Linked DNA regions of Homo sapiens: region 2 is linked to region 1. The links come from fine-mapping of genetic effects on gene expression. Tissue or cell type: tibial nerve. Region 1 holds a variant in brackets; the other region holds the start of a gene. All regions are shown on one strand. Distances are from middle to middle.

The links. PIP is the estimated chance that this variant, and not a neighbour inherited with it, causes the effect. A credible set is the group of variants that fine-mapping cannot tell apart.
Region 2: ATP2B2 starts here. The variant in region 1 is the best candidate, but not a certain one, in a credible set for the expression of ATP2B2 in tibial nerve (GTEx, PIP 0.67).

Annotation. Positions count from the first base shown.
Region 1 is chr3:10,551,281-10,556,501 of GRCh38, forward strand. It overlaps a transcript of ATP2B2 not described here. Among named protein-coding and RNA genes, the nearest start is that of ATP2B2-IT1, 16 kb to the right of the region's middle. RefSeq lists a silencer at 2,405-2,699. The variant A/G (reference allele first, on the strand shown) is at 2,600.
Region 2 is chr3:10,503,437-10,508,657 of GRCh38, forward strand. ATP2B2 (ATPase plasma membrane Ca2+ transporting 2) reads right to left here and starts at 2,150. Exons shown (of 23, transcript NM_001001331.4): 1 at 2,029-2,150. RefSeq lists enhancers at 806-1,472, 1,473-2,139.

The sequences.
Region 1 (5,221 bases):
GATGAGAGACGCAGCCTGCAGTGAAGCAGGTAGTATGGCTTTAGGACCTGGCAAGGCAGTGGTGAATGGACGTGCCGATTATCAAGCCCACCATGGGCACAGATGGGGCCAAAGCGGCCAAGCTCAACGTCTCAGATGCGGATCTGTGATCACTGTCAGTGCTACTTGCAAGATACAATCCCTGATGCAGTTCCTTCCTCTGTAACACCCCACTAACACGCATGCATATTCCACAGCCCTGCTTTGGCAATGCAAAGTTTTGTATAAAGAAATATTTTGCTGTAAACATATTTCTATTCTAGGCTAACTCAGATTTAGAGATAGATTTTTCTTTCCTTTTAAGAAATCAAGAGTTCAAACCTTCAGCCCGGCAACTGTACACAATTGCTCACAATTATGTTTCATTCAAACAAGAACACAATGTATCAATCATATTTACCTGTTTTGGTCTGTCTCCAATTCCAAAAGCTACCTTGGTCTGCCAGTAAAGGGGAGTCACATCTGGGAATGTCCTGGCCATGTGACCCCAAGCATGTCTCACTTTCCCCATCTGTTGAAAAGGGGACTCTAGCTTCTTCCTGGGCTGTGGGAAGCAGGACATGAAGTCTAGGCTGGGCCAGCTCCCTAGGGCCCTCAGCAAATGGAAGTTGCGAACATTAACGCTGCTTTTGAACAATGCCAAGGTTGCATAAGAAATGTAGCCATGCCTATCATGGGGCTGGGTTTGGGCTTTCTGTAACACTGATTCCGAACAATGTCAAAAGTTGCATAAGGAACCTCACTGTGCCTATCCTGGGGCCCAGTTTTGGCTTTCTAGAGCTCGCCTGTGGCAGCATTTCTGCAGCCGGAGAGGGAACACCCTTCCCACGGCCGCCGCCTCGGTGCCGGTTGGTGACTCATAGCACTGGCGAGGGGCGTGGGCGGGAAACCACATAGGCATCACCATGGCATCTGACAGATTTGCCCCTGTGGAGCTACTCTGTAAAGAAAAGGGGAAGAGGGGGCCCTTCTCCTCCTGCAAGGTGAGTGGGGCACAGAGGGAACAGCTTTCGTCAGCCGAACCCCCTTGCTGCAACGTGGCTGGAAGCCAACCTTAGAGAAGGTGGCAGCGTCCTGCCTTCCGCCCAAAGTGAGTGCTGGCCTGGCTCCTGGGGTGAGGGAAAAATCCCATCTTGTGGGTGCTGCCCTCCATAGCTCCCTCTCACACAAACACGTTCAAAGTCTTCTCACATACTTAACATCAGAAAGGCAATCCAGAACCTCCCATTTGTGAGCAACAGCTATGTGCTGGGTTGGCTCCCCTCAGCACTGCTTTTATGTTATTTGCTTCCTTCCATCCTCAGGATGACTTGTTCTTATCTCCTCTTACAAATGAAGAAACTGAGGCTAGAAGTTGCCCGAGGCCACAGTGCTGCCCTGAGGCAGAGCTGGGGTTCCAACCAAGATGTGTTCCCTGTGCTCAAAAATGGGTCAGGAAATTTACAAATGGGTGTCTGTGGGCATGTGAGAAGCAGGTGAACTGGAGAACATCCAGGAAGTGCAACTGCTGAGGCCACAGACAGCTCAGGGCAGAAACACTCATTTTAGGCAGCTGTCACTTTCCAAAGGACTTTCTATGTGCTGTCTCATTTACTTTCCATAACAGTTCTATGAAGTGGGAGCTAACATCTCCATTTCGAAGGCAAGGAGGCAGAGATTGAATTGCTCCTCAAGGGCATCCAACTGCTCTGTCCTCTATGGCCTCCAGCCTCCAGTTCCCCATCTGTGCAATGGGAATATATTAAAATCACACCTTCAGATGATGTCAGGGTTAAATGAGGGAACATAACAGAAATGCTTTAGAAACTGCAAAATGCCACCGGAATTCTATGGAGTATTATTATTTACTAAAATAGCTTAGTGAAGACAACACAAATAAGTCTGAGAATTGCAAGGTTCTAGATTCAGACCTAGATTTCTGCAGAGTGTTTAAGCGGTGTTCTTTCCCGGACTGGAAGCTCCTGAAAGCAGGGACCACGTCTGGTTTGCCTCAGTTTCCTCAGCGCCCTGTTCCATGCCTGACACAGAGAGGGACCTTGAAAAAGCTAGGTGAAACTATTCAGGATTAATTCAGACTGGGAAAGAGGGTGGAGGGGAAGAACAATGGGATTGAGGGCTGGAAGTGGCCTTTTAGAGGTGGGTGACCAGAAGGTTGATGTTCCAACTCTTGAGAATGAAAACGCCTCTTTTAATAGTCTTGATAAAATGGAACTGTTCTGGGCCAGCAGGGACATACAGTCATACTACTTAAATATTTAGTACTTATTTAGTCTGATCCCCATGTTGTGGGGGAAACTGAGGCCCTCAGAGGATTGCAGAGCTGGGGGGGAAACCCAGGACTCCCTGCCCCTCCATAGGCCTGCTCTTGGAAGAGCCAGAGCAGCAGCTCGGAGTGGGTGGAGCTTGCTTTTAGTGCCTGCAGCTCTCTGGAAGGAACTGGGTGTTATCGAGATAATCCAAAGTTTCTGTTGGGTAAATATCAACACTTCTGGGCCCGTTACTAAGGGCCTGGGTGGTTGCTAAGCGGCCCTATGACCTCATGAGGGGGCCATTGTTTAGC[A/G]CTCAATAGGCATCCTTGAGTGACATCCCCCAGCTCCCAAATCCCAGGGGCCCCTGGGGTTTTGTGAAAAGAAGCAAGAGATTATAATGAGCAGGAGCGGTACACAGACCCACGTTTGTTTTCTGGGGGTCTAGTGGGGCGGGGGTGGGGGCTGCAGCTTTTCAGAACAAGGCATAGGAAGGCATGAGGGCCCGGTGAGAGGCTGCCAGCTGCCATTGCTGGCAATAGAAATACCCCAGGAATAAAGAATTAACCCCATGTATGGCGCTTGACCCTTTGTAACCCACCTGAACACTCATCCTCTCACTTTGTTTTCAAAGCAGCCACACCATTTCACAGAAGAGAAAAAACTGGGTCCAAAAAGGGGAGACAGCTTGCCCAAGGCCTCTCAGAAATGTCTCAGTTTCCAGGTGTGGAAGGCAGAATAATGGCTGCACAAAGACACCCACATCCAAACCCCCAGAGCCTGTGAATATGTCAGCTTATGGCAAAGGGAAATGAGGGTGCAGATGGAGTGAAGGTGTCTCACCGCTGACTTTAAGACAGGGGAGATCACCCTGGATGATCTGGGTGGGCCAATGGAATACAAGGACCTTTAAAAGTGGAAAAGGGAGGCAGAAGATTCAGTGTCTGTGAATCAAGGAAATAGGCAGCCTCTAGAAGATGGAAAAGGCCCAGAGACAGATTCTTCTCCCCCGCAGCCTCCAGAAGGAATGTGGCTCTGCCTCGATTTCAGCCCGGTAGAGCTGTGTCAGACTTCTGACTACAGAACTGTCAGCTGATCAATTTTAAATCCCCTGGTCTATGGTTTTTTGTTACAGCAGCAATAGTAAGCTAATACACCACACTTAGAAATCTGCAATGCCTAAGCCAGAAGCAGGGCCTTGAAGATCACATTTAGCTTTTTGGAGTTCAGAAAACAGAAGGCCCAGGGGAATAAAATGATTTACTCAAGGTCCCAAAGCAAGTAACACAAACAGTGACAGGCACCTCTGGGTGTGGGTCAGACCTTGTTGAGGCTACTGAGGCCACCTGCCAGGGAGTTGGAACTTCTAGGCCCCTTCCCTGCCATTCTCTGCCAGCTGGCCTGATCAGGACCCCAGACCCCAAACCTATCCCCTCTGAACCTTTCTTGGGCACAGGCAGGTCAGAGGCCCATTATGTGACAGGCAGGAGGGTACTCTCCTCCTTTTCGCCCCTGCCAAGCACAGGCAGCCCAAAGCCTATGGCCTCAGTGCCTTTCTTTGAAAATGGGAATAGCACCTTCCACATCAAACGGCAAGGATAAAATGTGAGCACACAGTAGGTGCTCAATGCCTGCTCTTAGATTTCTCTCAGCCAGGCCCAGGCCCTGCTCTGTGTTTCACAGCAACTGGCTGTTTCCTCTCAGCCTTCTTTGGAATCTGAGGGCTTCATTCCCAGAAGGGCATTATCTCTGCCCAGCACACAGGAGTACAATGATTGCCTGTTGAATGGACCACAGGATTAACACCTATTATGCTTCTGTCTCCTCCCCTTCACCTAGAAAACTCCTATGTATCTGTCAAGGTCCAGAGCAAATGCTGCCTCCTCCGGGAAGCCTTCCCTGACCTCCCTGTGCAAGGTCACATTCATCTCTTTGTGCTGGGCTTCTGGCTTCCTTGTGGCACCTTGATGTTGGTGCTAAGGGCTCCAGCCATGGTGGCCAACACATCTGGGCTCCAATGCTCCAACACATCTCTGGCCCTGACAGAGTGATTCTTGACTAGTTATGCCTCTTCTCTGAGCTTTGTCTCTTCCCCTGTTGAATGGGAGGAATAGCAGCACCTCCATTGTGGGGCTGGTGGGGAGAAGCCCATAAGATGCTGTGTGGGAAGGGTTCCTTACAGGGTCCAGAGTGAGCATGCAGCAAAAGGCAGTGGCTGTTTTCACTAGAATGGCTGCTATCATCCCAGATGCCTGCATAGCTGGCCTGATTAGGACCCCAGAGCCCAGATCCCACCTTCTCTGTGGCTTTCTTTGTGAGAGACAGGTCAGAAGCCCTCTTATTTTATTTTGGAGATGGAGTCTTGCTCTGTCACCCAGGCTGGAGTGCAGTGGCACAATCTTGGCTCACTGCAACCTCTGCCTCCCGGGTTCAAGCAATTCTCTTGCCTCAGCCTCCTGAGTAGCTGGGATTACAGGCACCCACCACCACGCTTGGCTAACTTTTGTATTTTTAGTAGAGACGAGGGTTTCACCATGTTGACCAGGCTGGTCTCAAACTCCGGACCTGAAGTGATCTGCCCTCCTTGGCCTCCCAAAGTGCTGGGATTATAGGCGTGAGCCACTGTGCTTGGCCAGAAGCCCATTTTATGACAGGCAGTGCTCACGGAAAACCCAGGTTCTCCAGGCCAGGGATATGTCTGATTTGTCTATGTGACTGCTCTCAAATTTTTACTGAGCACCTAGTAGGTATTAGGCTCTCCACTAGCACTGGGGGGACAAGGGTGAACAAGGTCTCTGCTCCCTCGAGCTGTCTTTCTAGTGGTGGGGGAGACAAATGCTGAACAAACTAAACATTAAATAAAAATTGACTGTGTCAGGAGAGGATTGCCGTTGTGAAGCACAAGGCAGGGCGAGTGGCAAGTGACAGGAAGGGCT
Region 2 (5,221 bases), 48 kb before region 1:
CTCCCTGGGAATACGGGCTGGCCCTCCCCCAACGCCTGTGTGAGGCTGTGGCGGGCACTTAGGATCCAGTATCCCTCTGTCCTCATCGGAAGTCCCTTAAGGGGCAAGCTCTCCCTAGCACCCACAGAGCCACCTTGCCTCCTGGAAGCTGAGGGGGCGGGTGTGTGCACGCAGCATCCGCAGAGGTGCTGCATCTGTGTGCCTGTGGCCGTCTTCTTATGTGTGCAACTGACATTCACCTGTGGGCACATTCCAGCATGCCATGTGCCTGCCAATGCACGGGCAGGCACGCAGATGGCATTCAGAGCCCCACATGTGTGTGCCTGTTGTTTTCACACCTGAGCCAGCCCTCAGGTGGGTACACACATTTCTGGCTGTTGCAGGGCACTGTGTGCAGCCTACTGCTTTCCCGTGTTAGTGCTACATGCATGTGTGGGCAAGCTGCATGCACAGGTGTGTATGTGTGTACTGCATTCGTGTGTGTGCTGTGTTTTGCACGTGAGCATGTGGTGTTCAGGAACGTGGGTTGTATTTACAGGTGCTGGGGTGTGGGCATGGGCATTCCATATGTGTATATATGATTTGGACATATATGACGCACTACTTATGGGTACTATATTTGTATCTGTGCATATGTGTGAATTTGTGGGCATGCATATGCCCTGATGTGAATGGGACTAGGGTGTGAAGGTGGCTAAATAATGGTGGCCATCAGCATCTTTCCTGGACCCCCAACCCCCCACAGGACTCCCCAGAGCTGCAGCCCCTTCTTTGCCACTGCTCCTTCAACGAAGTTAACAGGCGGAGGCCCCCAAGGCCTGCGCTCCAAGCCCCCTCCTACTGCACACGTCAAAGGAGAATTTCTCCGGATGGCGCCCGCTGATCCTGGAAATACCCCAAACGTCAGCTCTGCCTCCTCCCAGCGATTCGGAGAGCAATGCAGGAGAGGAGGGAGCCCCTTCCACGCTGGGCTCAGGGCATGCAGCGTCGCACTAAGACCCTCTGCCGGCTGGTCGGGCTTGCCTGCTCACTTACCCTTCTGAAGGTCGAGCCAGGCTGGGCCTCTGCATGGAGGGCCCGAGACCCCCAGGGCCCTTGCCTGATTGGGGCAGGCCAGTCCAGAGCACCCCCCCAACCCCCAACCCCCAACCTGGGTGAGCAGAGGACAGCCGTGGTGTGGAATAGCTACTTGGCTAGAAAGGGGTTGCTGCTGTCCGCAACCCACCCTCAGGGAGTCCTGAGGCCCCCTGCTGCATTTTCCCATCCTGACCCTGCAGGGGGCAGGGAGGAGCCTCAGGTGCCCTATCCCTCAGCTGGAGACCACTGAGGCTGGCCTAGGAAGTGGGCTTCTGGGCAGAGGGTGCCGACTCCACCACCCAGCATGACTGCTGCAAAATGGCCTGGCCACCCGTTCCTGCCACCCTCCTGGCCATGGAGGGGACCCAGGAACACGTCCCTGCCACCACATGACCCGGCTGGCCTGACCCAATGAGTCCCAGCACACAGCTGCCCACCCCACCAAAGGGACGCTTCACAGGGGCCTCCTCCTGCCTCTTTCCTGGGACTCTGACCAGGGTGGGCAACGGGCACCCTCCAGTCCTCTTGGTCTCCCTGGGACCGGCTCAGAGAGAAGAGAACCTTGTCCCCTGCCACCAGCTTGCTGGCCCTTGCATAACATCCTTAGGGGGCATTTGCAGTCCAGAGGCTGCCGGAATCTACCTGAGACCCTGGGCATCCGCTTGTCCGAGGCCCCCCTGTCCTAGTCCCCAGCATCCAGCCGTCCCCCACAACACGCGGACCCTCACACTAGTGTCTCCCTCAGCGGCGGCTCCCAGTGCAGCCTCGGCTGCTGCCAGATAAACAAGCCCTGCTCCCACCCCCCCTCCACGCTGCCACCGCCACCACCATCAGCACTGAGAAAAATCAAATGAAATGAAACAAAATAAAATGGGTGAGGGAGGAAGGGGAGAGTGGAGTGGGGCGCTTTTTATTTTTTATTTTCTCATGCTGGGGGATGCCGGTACTTACTTGGCTATGAAAATCACCACCAATCCTGCACGGTTTCCCGGCGGGCAGCCCCGTAATCGCGGTGCGGCAGCTGGTGCCGCGGCTGAGCCCAGCCAGCGTGCCCGGGCCCCTCTGCAGACTGTACCATCCTGCCCGAGCGGGTGGGGGGCGGGGGGCGGAGGCGCCGGCGCCGGTTCTAGGAGAGCATCTCGCCGGCAAAATGCAATCTCGGGGGAGGCAGAGGCCGCCCCTGCCGCTGCCGGAGGCTGGGGGATGGGGGCGGGAGGAGGGAGGGAGGGAGGGACACAGGGAGGGCCGGTTCTGGAGGGGGCACGGGGGAGGAGAGTGGGGGGCGGGGGGGGTGTGTGGACCGAACCACCACGCTGTTGTTTGCGGTTTTAATTCCTCCCGTGGGATCATGAGGAACCGAAGCTGGCAGAGTCCCAGGAATATGCCCGCTCCCCAGAAGCAGGAGGGAATGTCAAGGGCACGGAGAGGGTAGGGCTGGGCTGTGCTGGAGGGAAGGGGGTCCTGAGAGTGGTGGTGGGGAGAACGGGAGCAGAGAGGGGAGGATTTTGCTCAAATGGCCCCAAGTCGTCCCTTGCTTTCTGGGGGACTTATTTGGTCAGGGGCTCTGGCCCCCCTCTTTGCAGTCAAGGCACCCCCAGACCTGGGGGGCAAAGGGGCAAAGGTCGCAAATGGGGAGAAGTCGACTCAACACATTTTAAACACATCTGTGTTTCCAGGGCCAGTGGAGCTGAGCCCGCAGCAGCTCTCTGCTGCCCTGAAGCGCTACCCCTGCGACCCGCCCTGCCTGTGTGCGACCCCACCTGCCCTCGGGGGGGTGTGGTGGTGGGGGCTGGCTTGGCAGAAGGGCCTGCCTCAAGAAGGTGCCCACCAGCAGGGGTGTCTGCATGTCTGTACACCCACCTAATCTTCAGGACATCTATGATGAGTTGCAGGCCGACTGTGGGCTGACTGACACTTCCACGGGAACCCAGGGACCCCGGGTGAGGAGTCGGTAGGGTTGGAAGCCCCTAGCCAGCTGCTCACCTCTTCCTGCCTAATCTCTGCCAGACTTGCTGCTCTTTCAACTCCAGATGGGTGGGAGGAGAGCCCTAAGAGCAAGGTTAGGAGGTCACCGGGGGCGAGGGGCTTCTCTAGAATTCTGAAGCCTTGGCCTCCACTGCCCTGCCCCCTCCAGGAGGGGTACCCTGCTTGGAGGGAGGGCACTGAAGGTGGAAGGACCTTCAGGACCAGTGTCTCAGGGCACCTGTCAGGGTGGAGGGGTGCATGGGGGACAGGGGCAGGGCTGGAGGCGGCCCCGGGAGGCAGTTCCAGGCAGAAGCTGCCTCTTTCCCCTGCCCCCACCTCCTGCCCACCTCTGAGCTGCCCGCCCGAGCGTCCCGAGCTGCCGCTCCATCCCTGGGCTGGCACAGAATACCAATTTGTCTCGTTAAGCTGAAAGTCTGCACTGCACCAAAATCAGAACCCGGCCGTGCAGAGGGGCCACGGGAGGGAGACAGTTGGGAGCGCCTGAGGTGGGTCTCCCACCAGTAGGCCATGCTGAGACCTCCTTGCTCCTCAGCCCCCAGCCCCATGGAAGGGTGCCCACCTGCCCCTTAGCCCGCAGGGTGGCCTCAACGCAGGGAGGATGCTGCGAAGCTACGATGTCAAGGGCCGGGTGGTCATTCAAGGCCTTGGCCTCCACTGGGGCAAGGGTGTGAGTCAGAGGCCAGGCAAGGCTCCCTGCTGGGGTTCTGACAGAGCAGCCCAGGACACCCCTCAGGGAGGCTCTCGACCCCACACCAATAGCCCAAGACTGGGGGCTTCCAAAGCAGCCTCATCTCTGCTTCATCTTGCGGGTGCAGATGGGAACTCTACCCCTCTTAGGGGTGTAGTTGGGGGGATTCCACTGGCCACCCCTCTAGGTGGTCTTCTAAGTCAGCAGTCCCTAGTCAGCTCCACCCCAGGGACCAGGGCCAAGCATCTGCCCTTCCCCAAGGCCCACAGGCTCTCCGTTCCCCAAAACAGGCCCGTGTAAAGCTGTTCCGAGATGTTGGAGCGAGGGTGGGCAAAGACGGGCAGAGGCGGAAAGGCCCATTGCACCTCCCATCTGTTGCCAGCCTACATGTCTGTGCCAGGAATCCCACCATTATTACTTCAACATCTTTGGCGGTAAACTGCTTTCCCTGCTTACAAAATAGCCCGAGAAGCAGCCTGTTATGAGCCACACATTTCAACAATCACACTGCCTTCTGTGTCCGGCACACTTTACAGTTTGTAAAGGCCACCTACAAAACAGTAAATCATTTGATCCTCCCAACTACCTCTGGGGTGGCTGCCGTGAGCACCCAAGGTACAGATGGGGAAGCTCTGTGTAGTTCAGGGGGATGTGGTGGCCAGGGCAAGGTGGCACAACCAGTAAAGAGTAGACCAAACTTGTGACGGAGGCCTCTGGACTCCAAGCCCAGGGCTGCCTGCATGCGCAGGCCATCATGAGTGTGGGCTCACTGGGAGCCCTGACACTCGTCCGCTCCCAAGTCTTGAGTCTTACCTTCCCGGTGGTCCCTGTCTGAGACGGGCTGGGCTCTCACCAACGCACACTAGCAGCCAAACTCTCAGGCAGTTGTGGATTTTGGTTTTCAGACCCTAAGACTAGAACTGCCACCTGGCCGAGTTCCCATCTCCTTGACATTCCAGATCCCATGTCTTTCAGCGCCTGCATCCACCCCGCAGTGACTGGATGCCCCTATCTCCTGAGGCAGTGCAAATATTGAACAGCAAAGTTTGAAGGTTTTTCCTTGTGGGTATACCCCAGTTCTAGGCCCACCCTACTCATTCTTCGAAGTCCAACTCAAATTCTGCTTCCCCAGACAGTCCTTCCTGATTCCACCAACTGAGTTGGTTCATGCCTCTGTTCTACCTCTGACCACACTGTATTGTGATGGTCTACACGTCTGTCTCCCTCACTGGGCTGTGACCACATCAGACATGTCTCCAGCATTCCAGGTCTCAGGTCCCAGCATGTGTTAGATGGTGCAGTAAAGGCTTGAATGAGTCTGCTGGACCCTTGAGAACTCCTATCCAATTCTCCCATTTTACAGTTCAGCAAACCGAAGCCTCAAGAAAAAGATCAGGGCTTGCCTAAGGTCATTCTTGAGGGTGGAATCTGGCTGCAGACATCTGTCCCTTGCCCCGTCCCCTTTGCCTT